Homo sapiens: one gene and its partners. The protein of the gene in region 3 purifies or fractionates together with the protein of the main gene of each other region. This does not show direct contact. Each region holds a gene or a part of one and is shown on either strand. Other genes may lie near its edges. The genes, in order: RASAL2, DCLK1, ZNF638, AGAP1, NAV1, LIMA1 and KCTD3.

Region 1 (4,378 bases), on a different chromosome or scaffold from region 3:
GAGGCAGGAATTACTTTCCAGGAAGGTTTCACCAATTTCGCACTAAATCTCAGGCCTTTAAAAACATTTCATACTCTTCTAGGAATTCAGCATAAGAAAACATTCAGAAGTTTGGATCAAAGATTTGTGCACAAAGACAAATCAGTAAAGTGTTAAACTTTTTGAAAAATGTTAACATCTAAAATAGAATAATGGTTAAATAATGTTAGTCATTAAAAATTGTATTTTCATATTATAAAGTCTCAACAATAAAGCTGTGTGATACTGGCACATGAATATAAACAGACCAATAGAACAGAATAGAAAATCTTGAAATAACCCAAAATATAAATGGCAATCTTGTATAGAATAAAGAAGTCTTCTTAAATCAGTGCGAAAAAGCTGGTTTCTTCAACAAATGATGGTAGGACAACTGGAAAGCCATCTTTCAAAAAATGAAATTGGATCCATATCTCATATTTAATACCAGACTGGATTAAAGATTTGAATGTAAAAAATAAAACCAACGAAGTACTAGATAAACCAAGAGAGAATTATTTCATAACCTCAGAACAGGAAAGCCCACTCTTTTTTTTGTCCCCCAAGGGTATTTAGGTACTTAGTGTATGTAGAGGGGGAAAAAAAAAGAATGGGCTTTCCTATTCTGAGGTTACAAAATAAAGGTCCAGAGAACTCCCAGGAAAGCCCATTCTAACATAAAATACATTCTGACATAAAACCAAAAAGCCATAAAAGAAAAATCCGATACATTCAATTGTGTAAGAATCATTTCTTCATAAGGGTGGGGGGAATACCATAAGAAAAATGAAAATACTGGCAACTGTTGCAGATAAAGGGTTCTTTACTTAAATACTAAGAGTTCCTTAGTATGCTTTGCTTAATATACTAATAGTTCCTACAAATCACTAAGAAAAAGATCCAAGAACCCAATAAAAATGGGCAAAAGGTATGTACAGTTCACAGAAAAGGTTATATTTAAATGACTCTTAAAAATGAAAAGATGTTCAATCACACTTAATGTAAAAGATATTAAAAAAAATTAAATTAAGACACCATTTTTACCTTTCAGATTGTCTGATCCAAAATTTCGTGATAATTCATTATGTGTGGGGAGACAGGCACTCTCATATATTGCGGGCGAAGTACAGACAGGTAGGGCAATTTGGCAATATCTTTCAAAATTACAAATACACGTACCTTTGACCTAGCAATTCTATGTATTTTTCTTACAGATATGCTCATACACAAGCAAAATGGCTTATACTCAAGATCATTCACTGCAAAATCACTTGAACTAGCAAAACTTGGGGAATAATTAAATGAGTTATGATTAATTCAGGCATTATGCAGCCATAAAAAGAATGAGGTACCTCTTTACAAAATGAAAGGAAAATATATCTGAGATACATTAATAAGTGAGGGGCGGGGGGAAGAAAGAAGAAGCAATCTCAAAGTGCAGATAAAAATCAGTTCTAATGGGTTATCATACGTGTAAAAATAGAGAAAAATGCATATATACAGTAAAAACCTATGATATCATTTCAGATATAAAGCAATTTACCGGCTCCAGACCCCCAGAACTCATGGCCAACTTCATTTGCAGGTTTGTTCTGGTCATTTCACTAACCTCACAGAAATATAACCCTGAATTTTTTGTAAACTAGATTTCTTGGATCCCACTTATGGCAGGATTTTTACATATCTATCTATCTCTACATTTGCTTCTATGCACGTGGAATAGGTATGGAAAGATACATAACAATTTCAAGTATTTATTGATTGGGAAGAGGGACCATGCCTGCCAGATGGCAAGTTGTAGAGGCAGGGAGGAAGAGTAAGAGAGAGCTCATGGAATATCTTTTTATACTCTGAATTTTGGAACAAAGGAATATATTACCTATTTTTTAAAATAAATAACATATTTAAAAAAATGTGTTAATGTTTTCAATAACATGAGAAAATACACTTAAGAGAAAAAAAGTAGAATGTAAAATATATGCAGTTTGATACCAAATATGTATTAATACAAAAAAATCTGTACACAAAAAAGACTGGAATAAAACACAATAAAATATTAAAAGAATAATTATCTCAGCCAGGTGTGGTAGCACACTCCTGTAGTCCCAGTTATTCGGGAGGCTGAGGTGGAAGGATCCCCTGAACCCAGGCAATGGATAATATGTAAGCTATGATTGCGCCACTGCACTCCAACCTGGGCATGAGCTATGATTGCGCCACTGCACTCCAACCTTGGCAACAGAATGAGACCCCGTCTCTAAAATATAATATTTAAAAAAAAATGATAGTTATCTCTAAGAGGTAGAATTACAAATGATTTTAATTTTGGCTTTTCCTAAAATTCTAATTCTTTATGTTAAGCACAAATTATATTCATAATCAGAAAAAGGGTATTAATTTTTAATGACAGGAATCAGAGGTTAGAAATTCAAGTGGAAGGTACAAAGTTATTAGGTATTATTCAGGGTTCTAAGCATCATATATGAAATTCAAATTTCCTTCAGACATCACTTCCAATCACAGCACCAAAAAAAGTATGCATAATAAGCTTAGGAAAAATATGAAAAAAAAAATCTCATCTGTCCTCTGGTCTATCTCTTAAGGATTACTATGAAATTATTTTCATCCTCCTACTTTATGGATGTTTTGTCCATTTTTGTTTTCTGTTACCTAGGTAATGGTATTTCCAGCATTTCCCTTAAAAGACTGTGAAACTAACAATCTGGTATTTCTCACTGTCGAGTTTTCCTGACCTTCAGCTTTGAGAGGCCATCTCCCTAAGGGAAGGCAGCAAGATCTAGAAGCTAAATCAGGAGGCTAAGGAATCTGAGGTTAAGAGTTCCAATCCTGACAAACTGTGGAGTCTGTCTCCAATTTTGGGAATAAGCTAAACTTCCTGAGCCAGTTTCTTCAATGAGAAAACCTAAAGGATTGCTTTGAAAAATATCAAAAACTATTGACTTTAAGGTTTCATTTTAACTTTTCAGACTACTCTTCCGAATTTTGTTATCTTATCTATGTTGAATGTTTTCCCCTCACTAAATTTTCACTCTCTCAATCAATATCTATAAGTATTACCAATCCCTTAGACTCAGGGATGGAGGTAAGGGGTACTTTTAGAAAGTCTGCTACAAGTGACACAATGTGAATGGAACTCGAGCAATGTTGAAGATAATTTATGGAGGGGTAAAAATACAATCAGGATCTAAACTGAACCCTTATGAGCAAAGCCAACAAAGACAATTAATTGATGTTACTAACACCTGGTAAGGGAAGGTAAAATTCAGACAGCTCATATCTGAACCCAGCTGTAGAGATTAGGAAAGTGATAACTTCTGTATCATAGTCTAGCAAATGAAATGTTTTTATGCCTTTAAGGGTTCAATTTTTATTTCTTTTGTTTACTGTATACTCACTAACACCACTGCACTGGGCCTCAAGACTTCTCTTTTCCCTTCTACTTGTGAACCACATTACTTCTTGATGGGCTGCCCTCTCACTATAAAATAAACTACATGAAATTTGCAAAAGGGTTTTCTACATGCTAGCCTTAAGAAGTACTTGACAGCCTTTGGGAAGAAAGGTGTTTTTACAAACATCAGACAGCAATTATCCCTCTACCAAGATAGGGTGAAGCAATTTTAGCAGTGCCCTTAGCACACTTCAAACTCCTCCTCCTGGTTAACAAGACCAAACAACTCTCTAGTTAGTTAAAAGTTTTTCCAATAGGGAGGGACAAGGGAGCAAACAGCTGAAGTTTTTCTGAATTAACTGTCATTAGTTGAATGCTTTTTTGTGGTTCACCTACTTAAAAGGTGATCAAATCACTTTGTGCTACTGAAGAAAGCAACTGCAAAGAACAATTACATAAACCCTCTATTTCAACTTACCTCATCCTTCCTTCTAATGAAACAAAGGATCCGAAACCACTACCTTGCCACCATTTCCTTAATAATCTTGGTAAAGCCTACTATGTCATGTGAATCTCTTTTCTTTTTCTTAGCAAACCACAGAAATTTCACTCACTATAGTAGGAAACACAACTGTACAACTTTTTTTTTTTTTTTTTATTTGAGACTGAGTCTCGCTCTGTTGCCCAGGCTGGAGTGCAGTGGCACGATCTCAGCTAGCTGCAACCTCTCCCTCCTGGGCTCAAGCGATTCTCGTGCCTCAGCATCCCGAGTAGCTGGGATTACAGATGTGCCACCATGCCCTGCTAATTTTTTTTTTTTTTTGTATTTATAGTAGAGACAAGGTTTCACCATGTTGGCCAGGCTGGTCTCAAACTCCTTACCTCAGGTGATCCGCCCACCTTGGCCTCCTAAAGTGCTGGAATTATGGGCATAAGCCACCGCGCCCG
Region 2 (4,378 bases), on a different chromosome or scaffold from region 3:
TGCACAAGAGAGGGAGGGATTATATGGCATCCCTCCTGGACCCAGTTGAGTTACACGGCCTGAGCAAATAGTTCTGGAGTAAAAATGAACTCAAGGTGAAATCAAGCTCTTCCAACACTCCATCCAACCTCCCTTTCCCAGATTCTTTTGTGCCATCTACTTCTTCATCATCAGGGCCTTGAGATCTCAATTTCAGAAAAATCAACCCTCCAAAAAGGATCTGCTAGCTTTTTTTGCACCTTGGTATACATTTAATCCCAGTCTTTTTTCTCCAACTCATTTTAATTGGCGATGATTTCTAAGGCAATGACAGGCTTTATGCCCTGTTCAAACAGGGTCAGTCCTGAGGCAAGTGTAGCCCAGAGTCGGTGACCTTCTCTGCTTGCATAAGATACCAGGCTGCATCCGTGGACGCAAACAGTCCTATTTCCACATTAAATGTCTAAAACAGATAATGACTATTAACCTAAATTGGACTTAAAAAATTAAACTGAACAGATTAGTCCCTGCATATCCTCAAAAATCAGAGAAAGACAATAATCCTTTAAACTCAAAAGGAAGCATCGCAGTGGAACGAGCTGTCAGAAAACCTGTTTTGGTCCAGGGTCATCACTATCTTACCACGTAACCACCGACATGTCATTTGAATTTTCTGGTCCTTAGACTCCAAAGATAAAATTAATGGGTTTGATAGCTATCTAAGGTTCCTTTCAACTCTAAAATTTCATGATCCATTTGTCATTTTCAATTCAAGTACTTTCGGATATCGTGATAGCAAAAGTTTAATTTGCATTTAGAAACGAATATAAACTATGAGATTGAAGAGATAAAATGGACTTTTAAAATTAATGCAGCATGGGTATGAGAAAGAAAATAGAGAATGCTGTAGAATTAGGGACTTTTTCCCTTAGCACATTATTATAAGCTACCTGACAATACCATTAATTTTTTTTCCTTTTTACTCTACACAATAGCACATTCGTATGTCTGAAACTATAAGGATCACAGCCATAAGGCTGAATGTCAACTGTCAGAGGGCAAATGCGAATCGGCTACAACACTGGAAATCTGAGCCTGGAACCTGTAGGGTCACGTGGGGGTTATCTCACAGCGCTCACCTTCCACCAGTTGGTCCAGGCTGGAAATCTTCTTGAGCCCATCAATGGTGTAGATTGTTCTCACTCCCTGGGGCAAATTCACGTTATCCGACAGAGTTCGGGTCAAATCAGCCAGCAGGGCCTCAAAAGATCGGAACCGGTCTGGGGAGATGGCATACACAATCCCTTTGAAGTATCGATCTCCGTTTCGATAGAAACGAACTTTCTTGGCCTTCTTCTCGGAGCTGAGCGTCTGCAGCGTGCGGGTGCGGTAGAAGCTGCAGTGGGCGCTGTGCGTCGGGCTCGGCAGGCCGTTCACCCGCGACCCTCGGCTGTATCTCTGCGCCTTATCCCGCTCGTCGAAGTGCTCCAGCTCCATGTCTCTGCCGAAGGACATGATGGACTTCAAGTAGGACCTACGAGCCCCAGAAACAAAAGCAGACACACATATTGATGTAGGTTATATATATATATATATTTTTTTGTTTTTGTTTTTTTTATGTTAGGGACAGGGTCCTGCTCTGTCACCGGGCTGCAGTGAGATGGCACTCACTGAAGTACTCACTGAAGCCTCACACTCCTGGGCTCAAATGATCCTCCTGCATCAATCTCCCAGAGTATCCGGGACTACTACAGGTTACAGGTGCCTGCACCACGCCTGGTTAATTTCCTTCATTTTTTGTTCATTTGCTTGTTTTTAGTAGTAGTGATGAGGGTCTTGTTTTATTGTCCTGGCTGGTCTTGAATCCCTGGCCTCAAGTGATCCTCCCCCGCCCCCCAACCCCTTTGGCCTCCCAAAGTTTGGGGATGATGTTATTTTGAGATCATGATTTCAAAGGGTCTGCTTCAGAACAGCTGGGTGGAAATATTGCTTTAACTGATGACACATTTAATATGAGTTATCAAGTGGGACAGAAAGAGAAAGGGATGTGAATTCCCACAAAATAAACACAGGCTCCTCTGCACGCTGTCAGCAGAAGAGGCCGATCCCAGTGGAAACAGCTTATTAATCAGCCACAAATTTGTTAGAAGCAGCTCCTAGGTTGCCCATGGTTCATCAGGCTTCAAACAGATATTATTCCCAATAGACACAACAACTTTCCAAAGTATTGTCCTTCCTTACAAAAGAAGAAACTGAGGCACAGAAAAATTTCCCCTAAATTGCTCCAAGTAATACAGTTGAGAAATGCTTGTACCAGCAACTCTGTTCCAGGTTTCCCTGACTCCAAAGCCCACTGCTCCTTGCAGGGCAGAGGGCTAATCCTGGTAGCAGGAAGAAAATAAGCTCTCATATCATCATACAGTGAAAGAGAAGTAGCTATGGTGGGCTGGGACAGAAAGAGAGGGCAGGCAGCATAACAGTCAGATTGTAAAAGTTTTACATAATGTTTGTGTGCCCCATGGCCAGATGGAGAGCAAATTAAATCAATCTGTAGGTTGGACCAACTTAAAGAAGATTTTCCAACATATTCACACATTCAATATTTTTAAAAGCAAATTCACTATACTTCATTTACTTATATTTAGTACTTCAGAAAAGTTGAGTTTAAAAAAAGAAGAAAAAGGAAGAGAAGGAGGAGAAGGAAGAGGAACAACAAGAAAGGAAAAAATGTTTGGAAGTACATTTCTTGGTTCTTCCTTTCATTAAGACTATCTTTGTGATTGAAGAAATTGAGGCTTAAAGATGTCGATTTACACTTGACCCCATGCTAGCTGTGTAAGCTTGAAAAATCTACTTGCTCAGCATCTTTAAGCCTTGATTTCCTCAACCACAAAATGGGAATGAGAACAGTACCTACCTCACAGTCAGTATTAACTATTAAATAAATTCATGCACATGAAGTTCTTATCATAGTGTCTGACATGTGATAAGTACTAATTTTTTTATTAATAAAATCTGTTTTTGTGTTCCTGGCCCTGACACATAAAGAGCTAGCAGGAATAGAATCTTTCCTTTCTGGCAAGAGAGGCCCCTGCTTTCTTCCTGATCTCCATCTCATGACCTTTTGAAAGGTACATCTGTACCCCCTGGTCCCCACAGCAAGCTGACTGGAGGACCAGTTCATCCTTGCTGAGGGGTTGGTTGATAAAGGTTTGTGGAGCCTTGCAGGGGAATCTGTGGTTTAACAAGACAATCTAGAAAGTGGAAAGACCAAAGCATTCAAAGGAAAGACACTTTAATGACAAAATTTCAGGCATGTTGAAATAGAATATCAGGAAAATGGAAAATTTGGAGCAAGAACCTTACAAGCACTCCCCAAGTCCCACCATATTAGATGGACATCACCTTTCTGAAGGTCAGTGAACACTCACCAATGCACCACTGTCTCCCCAACCTTTCTTTGGCCCTCAGTAAACTGACCTCTGATCCATTCAGAGTGGCTAAAATTTCACACCTGAAAGCATGACTAGAGATTTGGTACTCCAGAAATGAAGTGAAAGAAAGCAATATTTACTGAAGGTCTAGGAGGTACCTGACACTATTACTCATCAACCAGTTGTATAATATGCTAAAAATTCTCTTCTAAACCTCATATTAATCCAACAAGGTAGGTAATATTATTAATATTCAGGTGAATATGGAATTTATCCAGGGTCCCAAAATTATAACTGAGGGGTTGAGATTTGAACCCAGATTTACTGTAACTCCAAAGCTGGTGTTTTCCATCCCTTGCTCCTTTGAAACTGGTTCCTCTTCAGCATGAGAAGCAGGATTTTGTAAGCCCTCACTCCTAACTAGCTCAGTGACCTTGGACAGGCCACATAACTGATCCAGACCTCGTCTGCACACAGAGGAAGCAGTGGTCAGCAGGCCTCTGATGTTGGTGATTCTATCTACCTGCTTATGGGTCTATTGCTGACCCCACTGAAGGTCTGGGGAGGGAGAAATGAAGTGTGATTTAAACCTGGAGTGTTAATGAGTTCAGTGTACTTTTTTCCCTCCAAATATGAAAACTATTTCTTGCCTCTTAATAACTCATAGTAGTCAGAATTTGCATTTTTCAAAAACAGTTATATATAGGCAGCTCTGAACTGGTTTCATTGATTTTGATGTTAGATAACTTTAAAACAATGATCCCTTGATATCCAGTCCTGTAGGCATTAGTTGTTAAACAGAACCAATTTTTGTCCAGGATATTGGTAACTGCTCTTACTTTTTAATTTATATGGTTTTAAAGTGAGCTCTCTTGTCTTCTAAAAGGGAGTGTGTCTTGGGGGTGGAGTGGAAGACACTCCCAGTACTCACACCAACTCACTAAGTTCTTCAACATTTTGTAAAT
Region 3 (4,378 bases):
AACAGCTAATTAGGCTGTTCCATTTATCAGTATATATTGATTACACATTAACTAATTATATATAGAATACATATTTTAAGAAATACAGGCCGGGCGTGGTGGCTCATGCCTGTAATCCCAGCACTTTGGGAGGCTGATCACCTGAGGTCAGGAGTTCGAGACCAGCCTGGCCAACATGGTGAAACCCCAGCTCTACTAAAAATACAAAAATTAGCTGGGTGTGGTGGCAGATGCCACCCAGCTACTCGGGAGGCTGAGGCAGGAGAAACACTTGAACCTGGGAGGCAGAGGTTGCAGTGAGCCGAGATCACGCCATTGCACTCCAGCCTGGGGGACAGGAGTGAGATTTCGTTGCAAAATAATAATAATAATAAAAGAAATATAATGGTTACATTTTGAGAAAGTTGTATGAAAAAATTATTACTAAGACTCAATGACTAACATAACTGTATTTGAAAACAACAGTATCTGTAATTTTTAAAAATGCCGTCAATAGTAAAGAAGATAAATTCCTACCAGGGCTCCTATACATTTAGTATGTTATTAATGATTAACTGCTATTATATATAATAACGACATTAGAATATGTACCCTGTAATTTCTAGGGAGAATATCTACAAGCGATTGTACTATCAAATTAACAAAGCAAACTGAAGTAGCCACAATCCTTACTTCTGCTTTAGTAGCCATAATCCTTATTTCTGCTTTAGTAGCCATAATCCTTATTTCTGCTTAAAACTAGTAACATTTCTCCTTGCCCCAACAACATAGGCCCAAATCTATCCCCTACCAGGTAAGAAAAGTAAAATGACTGAAAAAAATTCTATGAATGGTAAAAACCTAAAATAACAACCAAATATAAAATATGTTTGACAACAGAACTTGGTACCAGTAAAGTTAATCTTAGAGACCATCCACTTAAGGTTAAATTAGAGCCAAAAGGATAACCTGTTTTAACAAAATGAGGATGACTCAAGTCAAATGTCAGTCTCTTTCACATATATAAATTTTTTTTCTGTGTCTACAACCTATTCCTGTCAATATGAGATTGGAGGTATTGCCCTACTCTACTCTCTTTCTGTCCCCATATAACATTTTGCCCGCTCCCCCCGCCTCAAGAAAACACAAGGTGTTTAGACTAGCTCAAGGTCAAAAAGTAAATTAATGGTAGGATTAGAGATAAGTTAAAAACAAAACATCTCATTCCTATCCCTTGCTCTAAACTCTTAGTCACTAACATTGTTAAGGCAGGCACAAGTTATAAGATAGATGAACTGTGCTATGGAGATGAAAAAGAAGGGTTAGGGTCTGTGATCTATTTTTTACCTCTTTAGATTTGGAACTTCTACCAGTAGTGCTTTTAGGATTCTTAGTGTTTTGCTCAGCCAAAGTCTGAAATAGTAAATAAGAAATACAGAAAAACGGAATTTACAACCATATTATTAATGTTCTGGAAAAAAAAACAAAAAACAAAAAAAAACAGTAAACATTACCCAAATACAGTCAATTATGCAAATTATTTAACATGTATACAAAACTAAGTCAACAGTCACTAAACAGTATAGGCACAGTCTGTACAAGTTGTAGTTAAATTCAGTTTTACTGATCTTTTCGTCCCACAATGTCTAGTTAGGCAATCAGTGACCTGATAAAGGAAGCTTCAATTTAAGAGAGGAAACAGTTTCCCATTCAGAAGCAGAGTGGTAAATCACCTTAGGAGATTCACTGCAGACTTTTTTTTTTTTTTTTTAAACCACAGTTATTTCCAAATTGTATCCAAATAATGCTTTTCAAACATGTCAATAAATTATGAACTTGAGTTTAATACTCTGAATGTCTACTGGCTTAAACAATGGAATCATTTAAGAAAAGGAAATGGGAGCTTCCGGGGTAGAGTGAGGAGATGAAAGTATGAAACAAAATTACATCTCCTACTACATAGCTACAGCAGCGGAGCTAATCACTTCAAAGACACACTGTGCCATTCTTCCTACCCTCCTCACCTTATTGTTGCTGTCATCCCGTTTCATGATGGAAGGTCTAGCCTCTGTTTCCTGAGATTGTTTTGTTATATCTCTGTAATCCAGTTTAGAAAGCTTGCCTTGCAGGGCTGAGATCCTTCCACTGCCTCCTCTGGTAAGACTGCTCTGAGTAGGTTTGAATTTACTGCTGCTTTCTGCCAAGCCTGACCTGGCACTTGTGGGTTTAAGCAGACCAAATTCCTTGGCTGAAAGTTTCTTTTCAGCATTTATTTGATCTCTGGGCACAGATTTTGGAAAACTTTTCTGATTTTCAGTTTTTGAAACTGTAGCTTTTGCCTTAGGAGAAGAGACTATAACAGCCTTGATGCTTGGTTTACTGCTAGATACATCTGATACAGCCAGAATACTAGTTTTACTAGTTTCATCAGGCTTATTAGCCTGACCCACTCCTTTATTTGGGTATGCCTTGAATAAAGTGTTTTCTGCAGGCTTTTCTTTCATTGCTGCCATCTTTTCCACCTTTTCTGCATCCATCCTACCTTCATTCTTTTCAGCCTTCTCTGTTCCTATTTGAAGATCCATTCTGGTTTCCTTAGTATTAAATTCCTTCTCCTCCTTTTCATCCATGTTACCTTTTTTTTCAGAAATATTCTTTTTGTCCACTGTCTTCTCATCCCCAGTGGGAATTCCTGGTACTAACGTCACAATACAAGTTGATGGCAATATTTCCGAAACAGTTTCATTTTTTTCTACTTCAGCTACAGCTTCTACCATAGTCTGTGTAATTCCAGAAATGAAATCTTCTGCTTCAGATGGAGATTCTTCTAGAATTCCTTTGAGGTTCCTTTCTTCTGCAAACACACTGTCAGATGGTAACAATGCTGTTTTAGGGTTAATAATTTCTGCCCCTTTCTTCTCCAAGTCACTGTTAAACATCTGCTGATTTAAAGCACACTCCTCGGCATTTTCAGTGAATTGTTCAATACTGACTGAAGCGGATGCTACAAGAGGAATTTCTTCTTTGACCTCCTCTCCTTGAGTTTCAAGCTCCAAAGTTTCAACAGCAAAGTCAGAATCACATGTTGCTTTTTCAGCTTCTTCCTCACAAGGCTCTTCCTGCTGTACCAAAGTTTCTGTTTGAATGCTGGGAGTACTTTCTTCTTCAAGCTCATTAGGTTTAACAGAGGGACTATCAGTTGCTGTTTGCACCTCACTTTCATCAATTGGACTGTTTTTCAAGCCAGGGCTAAAAGTATTTAAAAACAAACAAAAAGAACACAAACAAAAACACAAACAAAAATCAAACTATGATGAGAATTCAACCATTATAAAGAATCCTGCTGATGCCAATTGTTAAGACTTCCTGATGCATTCGTAATAAGCACTGGGAAATCCAACCAATCAGCATAAAATGGGTAAGATGTATTGCTGGAAATACGTAAATAATATAAATTATGACTGTTGATATGTTCCTTTTGCGCTCATGTGATTACAGCCAATATTTTCCCTCCTCTGTCAAGTTAACCCCTGACATTGAAAGGTCAAATGTGAATCTGAGACACTTCAAATATTATCAGGTCCTATTCCCAACAGTGGTAACTGAAATAATAAAATATGTGTACAGTTCTACAATAAAACTAATGATCCATGCATTATGATTTAAAATTTTATAAGTGAACCTTACCTAAAAAGAACATAAACAGAAACTGGTGGGGGGAAAAGACCATACTCTAAATCATATCACCTTTTTATTTTTTTTTTGGATGTAAAATATTTTTTTAATTACCCAAGAACCATATTTATTAATGATAATACTTAGAACATTATTTGGAAAGTATTCTTTATATACTCTATTGAGGATTTAAAGCTAGTGACAAAACCTGATATAATCACCTTATGTGAACATACAGTCTTATAAATATTTGCCTTTGGCTATAAGAAGAAATGCATTAAAAAATAAACCTTCCCAATTCAAGAGAATAATGTATAATTCTAATATTTAACTTAAATGTGTAAGTAATATTCAGAAGAAATGGAGGAAATACATGGCTAAGTATATGTAATTCATCTTATTTCATCATGGTCTTCCCAAATCTAAAGTATATGAAAAGTGAGTAGTCCTATAATTCCAGTACTTTCACCGAGGTAGACACAGAATAAGTTATTTTTATATCAATATTCCACAAATCAGAGGTTTTCTTGAAGAACAAGGAAAACCTTAGCTTCCAAAAACAATGCCCAACATGCTATCAATGCAAATTAAAATTTACCAAATATATTCATATAATGAGAAGCAGCAGATTGGAGAAAGACACCAGAGAGTGATCCTATCATATCAATACCTGATTATTAAAAAGTACTGACTTTCTTCTCCTATTTTTTAAGGAAGGAGAGGA
Region 4 (4,378 bases), about 160 Mb from region 3:
TCTCCCTTAAAAGAAAAAAAAAATGCGTCGTTCCTAGATGATGGTTTTTTTTGACAGCACGATGCCTACCTTTGCGATTTGAGATTTTAGGCCCCTTCTTGGCCGGGATCCTTGTCATTTTTAATAAGGCTTAGAATCATTGGGTGAATCCTGTTTGGGACTGGGGTGATGCTGTTATTTTTCTCTTAGAAATAGGGATGTCTACATTATGTGGAGCTGTAGTTAATTTAGTGAGGCTTAAGAACCACTCAGACATGCTGCTGTTCTTTGCATGTTCTTCTGTTATCAATAATGATACCACTTTTCATTTCTGTAGAACTTTAACAGAAATATTTTTGCATGTATAGTCTCATTGTGTGGCTTCACCAACCCTGTGAGGGTGGGTGGGTAGCTTCCTCATCCTCATTTTATGGAGGAGCGGGTGGAGGTTCAGGGAGGGATAATGACCTCCTTAACATTTGACTGAGGTGGTTTGAAGTCTGATCTGAACCAAGGGATCATTTGAATGGAGTTTCTGTCTCCACACTGCATGTGGATGGCAGGAACCCAGTGCTGGCAACTAAGCCTGCGCTGGAACATCACAGTAACTGCAGAGGGCTCCCTGCAGGGGCAGAGAGCTGCCCCTGCCTGTGCGTGCACCTTGGAGGTTTTAAAGTCTAACTGTTTCCAATCAGGACAGCAGGTGCACATCATAACAAATGGCTCAAAAAGTCACTTGTCCCACCAAATAGAAAGCTGGCCACATTTTAGAAGATTTCCAGCTAGGGATTTTTTCCCCTTCCTCTGTATGTGCATACACAGAATTGGGGTCTGACTTCCCAAGCTTCTGGACTACCGTGATGTGGGCACTTCTTTTTTTGTTTTGAGACGGAGTCTCGCTCTGTCGCCCAGGCTGGAGTGCAGCGGCGCAATCTCGGCTCACTGCAGGCTCCGCCCCGGGTTCACGCCATTCTCCTGCCTCAGCCTCCCGAGTAGCTGGGACTACAGGCGCCCACCACCTCGCCTGGCTAATTTTTTCTGTTTTTTTAGTAGAGACGGGGTTTCATTGTGTTAGCCGGTATGGTCTCCGTCTCCTAACCTCGTGATCCACCCACCTTGGCCTCCCAAAGTGCTGGGATTACAGGTGTGAGCCACCGTGCCCGGCCGGGCACTTCTTAACGTTATGAAGAGCTTTTGAAGATAGGGTTTCTCTTGTTGGCACAAAATTCCCACATTTGGCTGCACCCTACTCAAAACTTCACTGTTTTCTGGCATCTTCAGGAATTTTTGCTGTTGGAGTGAGGTGCAGCCTTGTCCAGGGGAAGGATGTTTTGGCTAATGCTTATTTCAGAGCGCGTGGAGGTGGGTCTGGGTTGTAAAATCTCTTAACGATGGACTAAACATATTTTAGTTGAAAGGCCCACCAAGGCTCCCAAATAAAAACACATCCGTAATCCTGTTTGTAGGCATGGGATACAGGTGATTTTGCCCTCAGTCTTGTTTTAAAACACTAGCTTGTCAGAAGAGAACAGTTTTTTTCCCCCAATTTTTGTTTTGTACATTGAGAGGTTTATTCCCCCCTCCCTTCACCCCCAAATCACTAGAGTTTAAGGAAGCATTGCTGATTGTTCCAGATTTATCTGATCAGGTTTCTGGGATGTCCTATGGGGCATGGCATGCTGTGAAATGTAGCCACACAGCTGTGTCGTCTCTGGAGCCTCCGCAGCCACCATGCCCAGAAATGAGCCTGAGAGCCATCTCGCCTCCAGTCTGAACAGCGTGTGTTAGTTTCCCCTCTGGTTCTCCTTAGAAAAGTCCATCGGGGGTTGATGGCATTGAGGTAGATGAATTAACTGCCTTTCTTGTTCAATAAAGCTTGTTCTTCTTTCAAGGATAAAGCCTCTCTTAGCAGTCACACATCGTAATTCAGCTTGCCAGCAGCAGGACCGTGATGTGAGTGATAGCCCAGCCAGCTCATTCAGCCAGGCGGCCCGATTCCCAGGTTCCCACGCATCGCCGGGAAGGTTGGCCTTCCTCTGAGGTTGAGCCCTCATCCAGCCCACAAGCCTCCATCCCCACCAGGTGGCCGATGAGAGGAAACCCAGGCTCTCCACTGGCCTGGCACTTGGCAGGAGAACCCTGCCCTGCACTTCTTAAGGGCATTTCCACAGGGAGATTCCAGGACCCCTTAGTAGTATCTCAGCCCCAGTGTTTGGGGGACCTGGGAAGATGGGTCAGGGTTCCCCACTTTGTCCCATGATACAGCTGCTCTGTTGAGCATGTGTGTCCCACAGAGTGCGGAGTGTCTGAGGTGCATCATCTCAGTTCGTCCTGCAGCGATCTTGTACACAGACGCACTGCTGAGGCCAGAAAGCTTAGGACACTTGTGCGAGAGCGGTGAGCTGGGCCCGTCCGACCTCACCTCTGGCCCTCTGTCGCCGTGTGAGATTGCGGAGCCCCTGTTATTCATACTTCCCATAGGCCGTGTGTGCAAAGCATCCCAAGCTTGTTTCCGCCACCCAAGGCAAGAGGGTTTGAGAAGGCCCCAAAGAACCTAAAGTATTCTGTTCTCTGTAAAGCAGCTGACTGTGGCAAAACTTCCAGAAGCATTTGTTTTCATGTGGAAATGTATTTAGTCCGGTTGATGCAGGTGTGCATGTTTAGGGAAACAAACATTTTCTTCCTGCTGTGGATAAGTGTCATGTTTCTTTGTCACCATTGGCCATGTTCATAATCCTTCAAGTTGAATGAAAGGTGGCAGGTTTGCAGTCCCCTCCTTAAAAATAACACTCAGTTGGCTTTTAGTTGCTTCCAGGTGAGCTCTCGTACCTTGCCGGCACCCGGGACCTCCACAATGCGGGCGTTCCTTGTGAGTCCAGCTTACTCATGCTTCTCAGTTGTGGTGCAGGTGCTCTTTGAGATGCCGCCTTCTCTGCCTGTTGCTCACCCTGCGAGGCTCGGTCTCTGTTGGTGTCACTCATGACCAGCCTTGCCTCGCCAGAATTAAGGCCCTCCTGGTCTCTGCCCACCGTGTTTGGCTCATCTACTTAATCAGCTGGGAGGTCTGGAAGCTGGTTGAGGGCAGAAATCAGGGCTTGTTTATTGCTGTATCCTCAGTGGTTTGATAGATCACGTCTGGCCCTTGAAGGATGCCCAGGGGTTTGTTGGCTGGCTGACTTGCCAGAGGGTCCTTTCCAAAGCTCCTTCTTGGTAGGATAAACAATGTTTATACGCTGCAGAAGTGAGGACAATTTGAAACGTCCCCAGAGCACAGAAGTTAGGGTTAGACACCTTTTGGATTTGGTGGGCTGGCTTGGTGGGAACTCAGTGTCATGTGGTGTTTGGGATGGAAGTGAAATTTTCTTTACTGTAGGTAGGGGAAGCAAAAGATTTGCTTGCTAAATCTTGGCAGCTTTTTCAGATCAGCTGTCTACAACAGGTTGGTGTTTATGTTGGGTGTAAGTGAATTTCAGACATAGAATCAATATTAAGAGGACAAATGGGTGACAGCCTGTGTCACTGCCATGATATAGTATCTTTGGCGTCACACCGAGAGCAAACGTGAGTGTGTGTCAGGTCACATTGAGGGCTGATGGAAACAGATTGCCGGCCCCTCCCATACCTCCCGAGTTTCTAGTTCTGTGGGTTTGGAGCAGGACGCACGAATGTGCCTCTCTAAGAAGTGTCCTGAGGATGCGGATGCCCTGGTCCAGGGACCGCACTTCTGGAAGCATAGCTGTAAAGGAAAGGCAGCTCCAGTTGACTTGGTATCATCTCTGGGCCGTTGTTTCTTCTTCCTTGCTGTGCTTGTAGCCAGCTGAGAAGGTTTCCTATCAGCCTGCCCTGCAGGTTTCAGGTGAAGACACCTAAGGCCAGCTGCTCAGGGAGTTGCTTGTGGTCACGCAGGCTAAGTGTGGTGGACGAGGGACTTAAACCAGATCTGAATGGTTTCAAGCTGGTGTTCATGTGATCTTCATGATGCTGTTTGAAAAGCAGCTGAATGCTGGGTGAGGGGCCTGTCGTGCCAGACCCCTTTAAATTTCATTAGGGATGGCACCGGGTTCAAGAGACTGGAGAGGAGACCTAGAGCCAGCAAACAAAAGACAGAGGGTTTATTAGGGGAATTTATTTACAGAGTGGTCCCATGGCGGCCTGGGCAGGAGAAGCGCTGCTGCTTGCTTTCAGAAAGCGTGCAGTTTATATAGCATTTTCGCTTAACACCCTCCCCCAAACAACCACCACCCAGCAACCTTAACACCAATCAAAGAGCCTCAATACCCTGTATGGCCTGCTTTCCATGGGACAGGCTGGGGGTTTAGATGTTCCTCATAGATAAGGAATGAATCTCTGGGTTGGCCACTCCCGGATTCCTTAGCTCAGAACCCCGAACATACATTCA
Region 5 (4,378 bases), on a different chromosome or scaffold from region 3:
TGATTCTCAAATTGGTAGCCCTCTTCGGATAACCTTCTGACATCACTGACCCAGATCAGCGTGTGCGGGCAGAGAATCCTAATTCTGCTTAGAGCAACCTACCTGGCTCTCTCTTAGCTTAGCAGGCCTTTTCTCTCCTCAAGTGTCCTCCTCCACCTTGTAACTGACATGACAAATACATCTACTTTCTATTTCCAGCCCAAAAAGCTCTGGATACTTCTCTTTCCTTCTCCTATCTACTGCCTCCTGGCCAGAGTCCAGGATTGAAGACTCTTGGGTAGGGTCAGAAGGTTCATCCAGAGCTAGAGGTCTTACCTGAAGCTCAAGTGCAAGCCATGGTTGGGTGTCATTTTTACAGGCTGATTGGTGGTACCTATAATATAGGGACTGTAGGGAGAAAGGGGAAAAAGATTCACTTAGACTTGCCTTCACACTTGCTTTCTGCCACATGCACACAACTCATAGGTTGTCCTGGACTGGGTTCTCCCTCCTCCCACTTCGATGAATTTTGTCTTGATCCCAGCTTACTTACCATTTATGATACTTGCAGGTGAGGGCCCCATTGACCAACTCACTGATGGAGCCTGCTTCACTCAGGTCATCCAATAGAATCACCAGGGGCACATCCCCAATTCCTGTTTCCCGGTCTATCTGGTTGGCTAGGTTGGAAAGATACAGTTGCAGATCCTGGAATAAAAGAAGGCTGTGGGTCAGCACTTGGGAATAAGCAGCTGGATCGGCCTTGGAAATCAGGATTTTGAAGAAGTCTTACTAGATCTAGATTCCCCTGGGGCCTTTAGTTCCTTGCAAATTTGATTACAGCAGATTACCACAGAGTGATAAGCAGTGGTTGCAAAGGCTCTAAAGCAACCCTCTTAAGCAGCAGCCCCTAAATTCCCCAAAGTTGGGGAACATATGCTATTTCCTAGATGGATTTTCACTGGTACCATGGACTACTACTAATGGGCATGCCTCCCCGAGCTGGGAAGAGCAAAGATCTGAACCAACTCCATTGTATTAGGGTACTCAAGAGACATCATCAGGTTTTGGCAGGGGAGGGTGTAATATGTACCATTTAATTCTGAGTGCTTCTTCCCAGATAGCCCAAGGTCAGAGAGTAATACTGAAAAGAAAAGTAGAAGGAAGAGAACAAAAGAGAAGGGATGGGATTGACAGGGTTGGCAGACAGTGGGGTAGAAATGAGGAGAATGCAGTTTCATCAATGACCAACTGAGGAGGAAGGTGCACAAAGCAAGGAAAAGTGTGGAGAGGAAAGCCTTTCTCCATAAAGGCAAGGGAAAGTGTGGAGAAACAAGTTAAAGGCAAGAGGCTGGAAAGAAATCGTGGGGAGGGAAAGGAGAAGACTGGAAAAGGGGATAGATAGAGAGGGAAGGAAATGAACACAGAAGAGAAGAAAGATGAAGGCAGAGGTGAGGAAAAGGGAACAATGAGGCAGGAAGGGGCCGAGGAAGGGTCTTAGGGAAGGCTGAGGCATGAACAAAGGCTGGCAGGGGTGTCGGGGGGCAGCCACCTTGCAAGACTGCTGGTGCATGTTGAAGGTGCTGACGATGCCCTCTGTGACCTCACGGCCAGAGCGCTCCACCAGGTACTCGGCCAAGCGATTGGTCAGGTAGGTCTTGCCCGTGCCGCTGGGGCCCGAGAGGACGAGGCGCCGGTGCTTCAGCAGGAGGCTTATGTAGTGCTGCATCATCGGCTTGGGGATCAGCGTCTCGAACACCAGGCTGTCGACGCATTTCTCCTTCAGACCTGAACCCCCACCCCAGAAAGCATGAGTATTGACCAGGGTCTTGAGGATAGCAAGGGATCCTAAAGGGCTTTTCTTTCTTTATCTAGGAGCCCCCTGAAGAAACTCAGAGCCACTTGCCCCATGGTTCCATAAGAGTCCCTTAACCCCTAGTTTTGAAAACTTAGATCTTCTTTTTAGGGACATGCTGTGAGCTGGGGGTGAGGAGTGAAGCAAGAAGCCAAGGCTTAGCAAAAGTGTCCCTGGGAGCCAAAGTTAGGACTGGGTCTTACTCATCTTTTTATATCTCACATTACTTAAGCATCTTCATATTATACCTTCTCAGTGAGTTCTTGGTGAATGAATGCATGATGGATTATTTGATGATCCTGTCCCTGCCTTCATGCCACACCACCTCACCCCAAGAGACAAAGACTGACCTTTGAGGGAGACTGATATGTTATTGACACCTCGACGGCAAGGAGGCATCTCGGGGGGCTCTGCATCCAACACTCGTTTCACGTGGCTGATGCTGTAGCCATGGATGGACTCAGTGCTTAGTCCCAGGGTAGAGGCTGGGTCCATTTTAGAAATATAGTCCTGACAGAAAAGACAGGCAGAAGAAGAAGAAAATATACAAACACAGGTGTAAAAGCCACAACAAAGAATGTCTATCAGAGGAAACAGAAATAGATGGAGAAAGTGCAGAGCATATGCTTTTCCTAGGTAGCATTTCTCCATAAAGCCTCAAAGGTCCCCAGGATCCCAGTGCCTGGACGGTTTAATATCCTGTGAGAAGCCATGCATGGTGGCACATGCTTGTAATCCCAGCTACTCAGGAGGCTGCGACAGGAGAATTACTTAAGCCCAAGAGTTCAAGGCTGCAGTGAGCTGTGATCACGCCACTGCCCTCCAGCCTGGGTGGCAAGAGTGAGACCCTGTCTCTAAAAAAGTATATATATTCCACGAGAGGATGAACAACCTTTTTGAGTACAGGTATCCCTTTACCTTGAACACTTGGAAAACAGCTTCATCCAGCATCTTCCAGTCAACTTTTCCACTGACCTTGCTACAGCCCAGGAAGAATTCCTGCTGCTTCAAGTCCTGTAAGGCCAAGGAAGGAAAAGCTCTTGAGCTTCACTGCAGATGACTCCATGAACCGGGGTCCTAAAGGCCTTAGGAGTTGAGTTCTTTGGTTTTGGAGGTACCCAGGGTCCAGATTTTCTTGGATAAATGTAACAGTATTTGTTCATTCCCACTGTGGCTCTCCCTGAAGTTCCTTACCCCTTTGATGATGTGCTGCGGGGGCATCCTCACCACCACCCGGAGGGTCACTTCCTCCTTTGGACCACAAGTACTGATGCCATCCATGGGTGACAGGTCTGTGGGGATTGAAAAGAACCAACTGGTTTTAGGAGTACCCGCAGCCTTTCCTAAACTTTCCCATCATTATCCTTTCCAAAATAACTCTGTTTGCCACAGAGAAGGAATGGAGGTCCCAAACTCAAAAGTAGTTAAGGTTGAAGGACCATTACAACTCAGTGTCTTAGGACACTGGCATCTGCTTGGCTTCGGCATTGTTACCGCCCTGACCAAAGCAAGTGGAATGGTGTAACAGTGAAATAAGCCCTTTTCTTCCCTTCACCCTTATAGATTCTTCTCCCACACAGGTACCTGTGTCTGCAAGACTGGGGCCGAAGGAATGGGTGAGTGCCAGGCCTAGGGAGCGGCGTGGGGAAGATAATGCAGATGATCCAGGGACCTGCCCTGGAGTGGAGCCTGATGAGGGGCCTGGGGCTACCTTCAGTCGGTCATTCTCTGCTTTCAGCAGGTCCACCTCCAACTGTGGCAAGAACAGACAGGGTAGGGTGGCAGACTGGACAGACAGCAAGCCTTGGTCTTCCCTTTCCTGCAGCTGTCCGCCCAGACACTGACCTGCATGTTGTGCATGGTCTCCCGAAGCTGATCCAGTTGGTGGGCAGAGTTGAGGGCCTCCAAGCGGATGTCTGTAAGCTTCATTTCCTTCTCCCATAGCTCAGAGCGCAGCTCCGATACCTCCTTCTTCTCTGGCTCCTCCTCCTCATTTGCATGGAACAGCCTAGTGTGGGGGGCTGGGTGAGCAGGGCCCCTGTAAGATAGCAAGAGTCAAGCCAGGCTACATGAAGAAGCACTAGAGTTACTAGAGAATATTGAGAGGCATGGTTGGTGGTCTTGGCTTCTCCTGCCCATTGATATTCAATCAGCATGAGAAGAAAGGTCCATCTGTTGGTCTCATATGCCCAGGGAGAGGTCAGTAATAAGTACTGCTTGTCTAAGGTCTAATGGCCTCCTGTCAACTCTAGCCCACAGCTTACACTGGTAACAGGCTGGGTGGCAGGGAGCCAAAGAGCACTTACTCGGTGACATCAGTGCCCACGGAGGACGAGGTGGAGGACTTGATGGAGGGTGAAGCAGTCTCTGTAGAACCATGCTGTAGTTTGGGGGATGAGGGGGCTGAAGAGTCGGGTGTAGCAATCTCCTCTATATCCGAGTATGAGGAAGCTGACTTGGGCCCCTTTTTTATACTGAACGCTTTGTTGAAGGAACTTCGAAGCTAGAAAAAAGCAGATCCAGGTAGAGGGACATTAGGACTCC
Region 6 (4,378 bases), on a different chromosome or scaffold from region 3:
AAACCCCTTCTCTACTAAAAAAAATACAAAAAATTAGCCGGGCGTTGTGGCGGGCGCCTGTAGTCCCAGCTACTCGGGAGGCTAAGGCAGGAGAATGGCGTGAACCCAGGAGGTGGAGCTTGCAGTGAGCAGAGATCACACCACTGCACTCTAGCCTGGACAACAGAGCAAGACTCTGTCTCAAAAAAAAAAAAAAAGAATTGGTTATAAACATTTTTTTTTAAGAGGGAGCCTTACTCTCTCTCCCAGGCTAATTTTTGTAATTTTAGTAGAGACGGAGTTTTGCCATGTTAGCCAGGCTGGTCTCGAACTCCTGACCTCAAGTGATCCGCCAGCCTTGGCCTCCTAAAGTGCTGGGATTACAGGCGTGAGCCACCACACCTGGCCTGGTTATAAACATATTAATGTTACTGTTTCAATTGAATTTTAATGATTAGCTTCTAAAAGCTACATTTAATTCGGGACTGTAGAAAATAGTTATTGAGAGGCATTTGCTGGGTAGTGGTCTTTCAGTTGGCAGGGGAAAGATCATCACTGTCTTTGGGCCTCAATTTCTTCATCTCAAAAACAGGTATTGATTCACACAGGATGCTTATGAGGACTAAATGAAAGGATAAAAGCAAAAGTACTTTGAAAACTGTCAGCTACTCTACAAAGCATTATTTTAAATAAAACTTCAAGCCAGCATTAAGAAAAAAAATGGAATTAAAAAAGACTAACCAATGAAAAGAAATAGAAATTAGAACTAATTCATTATAATGTCTGGTTCAACTAGATGTTAATAAGAAACCTTTTGTTTAAAGCTGTTGCTGAAAATCTTTCTAATCAGTACACTGTCTAAACAGTGTGTCTAAACAGTAACACATTTCAGAGCATGTGTTAATAGTAAGTATAATGAAAATCATTTCATTTTTTCTTGAAGATTCTAGATAGCTTTCTAATTTTTCTCCTAGAGAATGAAAACAGAAGAAAACTTCTGGTTGTTTGTGGATTCCAGTAATTGGGTTTTAGTTTTGCCACACTGGCTTTTGAAAATGTAATAGGAGTTGATAGACTAGTATAATCCAGAGTAACAATCTGGGAAGTAGATGGCTATAGTGGTAGGAAAATAGTGGCCTGGATCCTGGAAACACCTTAGAAAACTTGCACTCAGATGGAACTTAATCCTGGTTGTCACAGTATCCAAACTTTTGTCCTGCTACCTTCCGAACTCCTCAGAGACTGCTACCTGATTTGAACCCAGATGGACCGACCTCAGCTGTTGTCCAGTTAAAAAAAATACAACACTTTGGATTGCAAAACAAAACAAGACTTGTCCAAATGAAAAGTCCATCTTCAAGGCTTATTCATTCATTCAACAAATATTTATTTAGCATTTACCAAGTCTTTGGCAGTATTCCAAGTGCTGAAGATATAATGTTAAAAATGACAGACAAGGCCGAGCGCGATGGCTCACGCCTGTAATCCCAGCACTTTGAGAGGCCAAGGCAGGCGGATAATGAGGTCGAGAGATGCAGACCATCCTGGCCAACATGGTGAAATCCTGTCGCTACCAAAAATAAAAAATTTAGCTGGGTGTGGTGGCAGGTGCCTGGAGTCCCAGCTACTTGGGAGGCTGAAGCAGGAGACTCTTGAACCTGGGAGTTGGAGGTTGCAGTGAGTCAAGATCGTGCCATTCCACTCCACCCTGGGTGACAGAGTGAGGCTCCATCTCAAAAAAAAAAAAGACAGACATGGTCTCTACTCTCATGAAATTTCCATTCCACTGGAGAAGCCGGACAATTAAAGACTGTGATTAGTGGTGTGAAGGAAATACAAAAAGAGTAACTGGAGTTGTGGTAGGAACAGGGACACGAACAGCTTCTTTAGGCAGTGATCAGGGAAGGCCTCATTGAGTGAATGACATTTGAACTGAAACCTGAATGATGGGGAGAACATATGCAGCCAGCAAGGTGAAGACAATAGATGGGGGAGTTTTCCAGGTAGAGGAAAGCAAATGCAAAGGCCCTGAGGAAGGAATAATACAGCTAGGAAGTAAGTGAGAAGCATGCGATGACACAGAGATGAGTAGTAGTCAGATTAAATACGGATTAATAACAATGCTAAAGGATTTTAATTTTATTCTATGTGTGATACAAAGCCAAACATTATTATATAAAAGTGTGTTTGCAAGATCAGATATATTTCATGTACTAAATGAGTACTTTGGCCAGGTGCGGTGGCTCATGCCTATAATCCCAGCACTTTGGGAAGCTGAGGTGGGCAGATCACTTGAGGCCAGGAGTTCTAGACCAGCCTGGCCAACATGGTGAAACCCTGTCTCTACTAATAATACAAAAAAAAAACAAAATTAGCCAGGCGTGGTGGCGCGTGCCTGTAGTCCCAGCTACTCCGGAGGTCTGAGGCATGAGAATCACCTGAACCCAGGAGGTGGGGGTTGCAGTGAGCTGAGATTGCGCCATTGCACTCCAACCTGGGACAGAATGAAACTGTGTCTCAAAATAATAAAATAAAATGAGTTCTTAATTGTTTATATGTGCATAATGGCCACAAAATGAAAAGGAAGGGAAAGGTTCTCATACCTAAAAGGCTTGTAATCTTACAAGGAAGCAATAATTTATAAATAGTGACAACATTAAGTAAGGTAAGAAATGAAGCAAAAATCAAGTGTTAAGTATAAAGACTGGGGAGGCAGCCACTGATTCAAGTAGAAGAAATTAGAAAAGGCTTTTTTTTATTAAAAAAATTTAAAAAGGTAGCATTTGATTTGGGCTCTTAAGGAAAAGGATTTCAACAAGAGGGTGGGGAAGGGGAGGAGCATGAGGCTGTGGTAACTGCATGAGCAAAGGCACAGAGGCAGGAAAGAACTGGGCAGGTCCAGGAAACAGAGAATTATTGTAGGGTCACAGTGCCAGGTGGGTGGGTCGTGTTGTGGGAGATAAGCCTAAAAGAATAGGCTGTCAGAGTGGGGGTGTGGGTGTCTTGAAGAGCATGTCAGAAAGCTAGACTGAATTTACTTAGGCATTGTCTCCCCTTAAGTTTGTATATAAATCTCTTGAGGTACTTGATAAACTTCAGGTTCCCAGGCCCATCCCTCAGACACACTGATCTGCAGGTCTAGGTGGGACCTGAGACTCTACCTTTTTAACCACTGCCAGGTAATTCTAACACAGGCAATTAAAGGAACCATATTTTGAAAATCAGTGCTTTTTTTTTTTATGACAACTCTGATAACTTTTCTGCAAGGGAAAAACTGAAGCCAACTCTAAGGATTACTCAAGGACTCAAGGACTCTGGCAAAAAACTAAAAGGGGAATCTGAATTAGAAGACTGATTAAAGAACTCTTATCACCCCTGGGGCAGAATCAGCCAAACTTGGGGATTGATCAAATGTGGGTGGAGAAAAGTATTAAAGTGGTAAGTACAACCTCAAGCTTTCTCCTTAGTGAATCTGGGTGTACGCAGATGCATGGCGTACAGGGACTATCCACATAGCCTAACAGGTAGCTGGAAATACAGATCTGGAACTCAGATATACAAAGGCATTAAACATATTGGTTTGGTACTTCAAAGTAAGTTCAATACAAATTAAAGAATTAAATATAAAGTGTAAAACGGTAAAAATCAGAAGGAAATGAAAGTGAGTATTTAACCAATCTCTGGATGGTGAAGGCCTTCTAAACATCACAGCACCAGAAGAAATCTCAAATTTAAAAATCCAGGCTGGGTGTGGTGGCTCACGCCTGTAATTGTAACACTTTGGAAGGCCGAGGCGGGCAGATTACCTGGGTCAGGAGTTCAAGACCAGCCTGGCCAATATGGAGAAACCCTGTCTCTACTAAAAATACAAAAATTAGCTAGGCGTGGTGGCATGTGCCTGTAATCCCAGCTACTTGGGAGGCTGAGGCATGAGAATCACTTGAACCCTGGAGGAGGAGGCTAGAGTGAGCCGAGATTGTGCCACTGCACTCCAGCCTGGGTGACTGAGTGACACACTGTCTCAAAAAAAAAAAAATCTATAGATAAGTAATAATATACTATATACAAAATTAAAAGGCAAACTGGTTAAATATTTGACCACAGGACAAAAAATTAATATTCTTAGAAGAGTTTATACCAATCTCAAAGAAAAACACTAAGAATGGTTCTGTATGAAGTAGAAGAAGTTGTTAAATAACTTGCCTTGGAGACGTACACCCTCTAGTCACAAAATGAGACATTTTTCACATACATTGTAGATAATCGAGTTTTGTGGCACAGGTCAGCAGGGCTTCTGTGATTTTATCTTACCAGTTTCCAAGTGTCAGTCTATGGGAGTGCCTAAAAAAATACCAATCTTTTTGACTTCTTTTTTTTTCTTTTCTTCCCCCAACCCCCA
Region 7 (4,378 bases), on a different chromosome or scaffold from region 3:
ACTTTCTGACAGGCCCAAAAGCCCCAAGTTATCATGAAACCTCAAAAGGAAAGAAACTTACCCAACTCATACAGGTATTTGCAGGCAATGATAAACCCATGGCAAGGCTCAAGGCTTTAAGAAGTCTCATTTGAGATTCTTTATGGATCAAAGTTCTATCAAAGTCAATTTAAAAAGAGCCTATATAGGAACTAATTATTCTTGCTGCACTTTATACAAATAATCAGGCCAAGTATAATAAGACTAAAGCTTATTTTGCAAACAAATCAGTCCTACCATGATTTCTTTAGTAAAAATGAAAGACTGAAAATAGGAAAATTGTTTCAAAAACTATGGTATGCTTTTTATTAGATTTGTCTCATCAGTAGTTTTTGAGTTCTTTCTGCAATTTGGACTCATCCTGCTTATCCTTGTGGACCAAGCAGTGATCTGTGGCTGCTGTTCAGAAGAAACAAGAGGCATGGGTAACACAGAAATCTGGATCAGTATTCTAATTGTGGGCATGTATTGGAATTGGCTAGCACATCAGCTTGGTTCCAACTCCATATCAGCTTGGTTACAACAATTTCCCAGTTCATGAAAAGCCTTCTTATTTAGTTTACTTGGGATAATTTTACTTATTTTGCCTTGTTATTGTAGAATATACTGCTGTTGTTCTCTTTGTGTAGGAATGCAAGATAAGCTTACTCAGTGCTTTCTTAAATCGAACACTTATTAATTTTTCAGTCATCACTTTTTGTCAGAAATCAGAGTTCTCACCATACTGACAGTTTCTAACTGAGCTCTCCTCTACTCTGAATGCAGAAGACCCTAATAGGCAGAAATACCATCATCCCTATTCAGACTGCAGAAGTTACAGAAGATGAATCTTCCTCCCTCTGAAACCCTTAGGATTAAGAGTACCCTTGTAAAAGGGAAGGGGAAAACATGTCAGAGGTGTTCAAACCAGAGTTGAATGGGGACTGAGTAAAATAAGGCTGAGACCTGCTGGGCTGCATTCCCAGGAGGTTAGGCATTCTTAGTCACAGCGTAACAAGGAAGGTCAGCACAAGGTAAAGGTCACAAAGATCCCGCTGACAAAACAGGACGGAGTAAAGAAGCCAGCCAAAACTGAAACCAAGATGGCAACAAAAGTGACCTCTGGTCGTCCTCACTGCTCATTATACGCTAATTATAATGCATTATCATGCTAAAAGACACTCTCACCAGCCCCATGATAGTTTACAAATGACATCTAATGTCTGGAAGTTACCCTATATGGTCTAAAAAGGGGAGGAACATTCAGTTCTGGGAATTGCCTGCTCCTTTCTGAAACACTCATGAATAATCCACCCCTTATTTAGTATATAATCAAGAAATAACTGTAAGTATACTCAGTCAAGCAGCCCTCAGGGCTGCTCTGGCTATGGAGTAGCCATTCTTTTATTCCTTTACTTTCTTAATAAACTTGGATTCACTTAAAAAAAAAAACTATATAATCTCATCTTTTACAGACATATTACTTCTAAGTTGTTTTTCTCTATAGTAATTAGGGTATTACACAATAAAGAGATGTCAAAAAAGGATAAAAGAATCAGGACAGCATATTTAAAAATAACTATAACAACTACAGAATTTAACTCTTAATAAGATATGTGAATTTACCTGTTTTTTAAAAAATTACAAAGAAGGTACATATTTGCTCTATAACTTTCCATACAAGTAATACATTTAAAATATGTAGAACAAGGCCAGGCACAGTGGCTCACGCCTGGAATCCCAGCACTTTGGAAGGCTGAGGCGGGTGAATCACTTGAGATCAGGAGTTTGAAAACAGTCTGGCCAACATGGTGAAACCCCGTCTCTACTAAAAATACAAAAATTGGCCAGGTGTGGTGGTGCACACCTGTAGTCCCAGCTACTCAGGAGGCTGAGGTGGGAGAATTGCTTGAACCCAGGAGGCAGGTGTTGCAGTGACCCGAGATCACGCCACTGCACTCTAGCCTGGGTGACAGTGCAAGACTCTGTCTCAAAATCTCAAAAACAAAACAAAACAAAAAATATATAATAATAAATAAAACAAAATATAAAACAAGAATATGCTCTGTTATTTCACCTCTCCATCATCTTACTGCTGCCTAGTGAACCAACCCTCTGGTTAAGACAGCTATGCGAAGAATAGAGTTACGTCTAGTTATTTCCTACATGAAGACCTCAATAAAATACAGTAGAGAGGACATGCCCTGTGAGATTTTGAAACTTATTATGAACATACTTCACCTCAAGTTGTATGAGAATAGACATATGTCTTAAGGAAATGAGAGAACTGAAAAACAGATCCAAGTATATACACACACATAAAGCAAGATAAAATGGGCTATCAGATTCACTGACAAAGAATGATTTACGTAATAAATTGTCAGAACATAATTACCTACCCACTGAGAAGAAAATAAATCCTTAAATCTCATACCACATACAAAAAAGTAAACTCCACAAGGATTAAAGATCTAAAGTGGAATATAAGCCCCAAGGGGGCAGCAATTCACACAACTACTCTTCGTTAATAGAAGTAACACTGTCATAAACTCAGCAAGAAAAAGGGACATAAACATAAAACCTAACCATGTAGAAAATTAGTGAAGCTAGGAGAACATCATACAGGTCTTCACTGTACTACTCTTTTTTTAAAGGTTTTGTAACTTACTGATACAAAAACTTGAGGAAAAATAACTTGTAAAAAAGATTACACTTTTAAACAGTTTAAATATTTTTCTTTCTTTTGAAATCTTTTTATTGCCATTGTGTTGAATGATTTAACTATATGTGAGGAAATCCAAATATGTCCTCAATTGTCTTCCTTCGTCACTTTACATGAGTATATTGCTCTGAAATGTCAGACACTTGGTGAAAGCACAGAAAGATCGTGATCAATGCAAACGCAAAGACTGGAAAATGTAATAGCATCATCCTCCATACAATTATTACCCAGTGAGTTAAATTTTGCGTAATAATGTGGTGGTTCTGGAAAAGAGCAATCTTTAGTATTGTGTACAGTAACAAAACGGAAGTTATGCTGTTACACTTGGATCACTTATCATTTCACAATTCTTCTGGAATTCCTTATTGACAAAAATATGTACATAATATGTAAACAAGGGTCTACAAGTCACCTCAATTCAAATATATAAGATGATAAATTCAAAACAATGCTTCCTAAAAAAAAATTACTTTACCAAATTAGTCTTGCCTCATACAAAACCATCCCCAAAGAAATTATGCAAAAAACAATTTCCATGCTATTTCATAATTAAAATTACAAATCCACAAAACACTTTTTTTAAAAATTTGTTTATTTATTTATTGAGACAGAGTCTTGCTCTGTTGCGCAGGTTGGAGTACAATGGTGAGCTATCAGCTCACTGCAACCCCCACCTCCTGGGTTCAAGTGATTCTCCTGCCTCAGCCTCCCGAGTAGCTGGGATTACAGGCATGCATCACCACACCTGGCTAATTTTTGTATCTTCAGTAGAGATGGGGTTTCACCATGTTGGTCGGGCTGATCTTGAACTCCACCCATCTCGGCCTCCCAAAGTGCTGGGATTACAGGCGTGACCCACCGTGCCCAGCCAAAACACTCTTAAAACATAAAAGTCTGCACTTAATCATTACTACAAGGAAAATATAAACCTGAGATTACTGATATAAACAGCACTTACCAGACATGCCAAACCTTTCATAAATTCAGATTTTTAAAAAAAAAATACATCTGGGATTCTTTAAACTATATCTGTAAACTTTAGAAGACATTTTAGATATTTTTCAGCTTATTGTGACTATTTTTCTTAACCGAACTCAACAGTGATAAACAAATAGTTTATGTATCTTTGATTTTTCTGCAATTAAATGAAATAATAATCTAAGCTAGTATATTCCAACCACTTTTGTGCTTCTACACCATTCTCTGTCATCAACATTTCTCAATGAGTACAGTGATTTTGAACTAAGAGTCCTATCACTTTCCCAATTAAAAAAAAAAAAATCACCGGTCTACACTATTCTTCATTGCTTCTCAGGCTCTGAGAATGTAAGCATTAGTAAAACCAAACTACTTCTTTGTAAGTTTCACATATTAGATATTAAACTATACCACTTGTGCAATAACTGTCCTGCTTTACTACCTCACTTCCCAAAATGTGGTATTTATGACCAATGTACTCTCCCTTGCTATAGAATACAAAACACTGAATCATTAGAGATAGACCATCAGGGAGCTCACATTAATAATCCTGTCTAACATCATTATATACTACAGTCTCAGAAGCTAGGTATAAGCAATAAATAATACATCAGGATATCTCAGTTACATGACAATTCACACTTGTCTGCTAAATGTTTA

What was found.
Region 1: the proteins of ZNF638 (region 3) and RASAL2 purify together in Homo sapiens (affinity purification with mass spectrometry, with the first as the bait; one large-scale study listed by BioGRID). This does not show direct contact.
Region 2: the proteins of ZNF638 (region 3) and DCLK1 purify together in Homo sapiens (affinity purification with mass spectrometry, with the first as the bait; one large-scale study listed by BioGRID). This does not show direct contact.
Region 4: the proteins of ZNF638 (region 3) and AGAP1 purify together in Homo sapiens (affinity purification with mass spectrometry, with the first as the bait; one large-scale study listed by BioGRID). This does not show direct contact.
Region 5: the proteins of ZNF638 (region 3) and NAV1 purify together in Homo sapiens (affinity purification with mass spectrometry, with the first as the bait; one large-scale study listed by BioGRID). This does not show direct contact.
Region 6: the proteins of ZNF638 (region 3) and LIMA1 purify together in Homo sapiens (affinity purification with mass spectrometry, with the first as the bait; one large-scale study listed by BioGRID). This does not show direct contact.
Region 7: the proteins of ZNF638 (region 3) and KCTD3 purify together in Homo sapiens (affinity purification with mass spectrometry, with the first as the bait; one large-scale study listed by BioGRID). This does not show direct contact.

What each region holds. Positions count from the first base shown.
Region 1 is NC_000001.11:178,100,237-178,104,614, reverse strand, and holds part of RASAL2 (ras GTPase-activating protein nGAP), read right to left. Parts: intron 1-4,378. UniProt on the Homo sapiens protein: Inhibitory regulator of the Ras-cyclic AMP pathway.
Region 2 is NC_000013.11:36,124,644-36,129,021, forward strand, and holds part of DCLK1 (serine/threonine-protein kinase DCLK1), read right to left. Parts: intron 1,514-4,378; 5' UTR 1,495-1,513; coding exon 1,119-1,494; intron 1-1,118.
Region 3 is NC_000002.12:71,421,664-71,426,041, reverse strand, and holds part of ZNF638 (zinc finger protein 638), read right to left. Parts: intron 3,229-4,378; coding exon 2,004-3,228; intron 1,393-2,003; coding exon 1,327-1,392; intron 1-1,326.
Region 4 is NC_000002.12:235,496,751-235,501,128, forward strand, and holds part of AGAP1 (arf-GAP with GTPase, ANK repeat and PH domain-containing protein 1), read left to right. Parts: intron 1-4,378. UniProt on the Homo sapiens protein: GTPase-activating protein for ARF1 and, to a lesser extent, ARF5. Directly and specifically regulates the adapter protein 3 (AP-3)-dependent trafficking of proteins in the endosomal-lysosomal system.
Region 5 is NC_000001.11:201,807,912-201,812,289, reverse strand, and holds part of NAV1 (neuron navigator 1), read right to left. Parts: intron 4,338-4,378; coding exon 4,141-4,337; intron 3,873-4,140; coding exon 3,680-3,872; exon of another isoform or gene 3,588-3,679; coding exon 3,419-3,587; intron 3,127-3,418; coding exon 3,029-3,126; intron 2,849-3,028; coding exon 2,753-2,848; intron 2,345-2,752; coding exon 2,185-2,344; intron 1,768-2,184; coding exon 1,532-1,767; intron 688-1,531; coding exon 533-687; intron 388-532; coding exon 316-387; intron 1-315. UniProt on the Homo sapiens protein: May be involved in neuronal migration.
Region 6 is NC_000012.12:50,272,868-50,277,245, forward strand, and holds part of LIMA1 (LIM domain and actin-binding protein 1), read right to left. Parts: intron 1-4,378. UniProt on the Homo sapiens protein: Actin-binding protein involved in actin cytoskeleton regulation and dynamics. Increases the number and size of actin stress fibers and inhibits membrane ruffling. Inhibits actin filament depolymerization.
Region 7 is NC_000001.11:215,580,212-215,584,589, reverse strand, and holds part of KCTD3 (BTB/POZ domain-containing protein KCTD3), read right to left. Parts: intron 1-4,378. UniProt on the Homo sapiens protein: Accessory subunit of potassium/sodium hyperpolarization-activated cyclic nucleotide-gated channel 3 (HCN3) up-regulating its cell-surface expression and current density without affecting its voltage dependence and kinetics.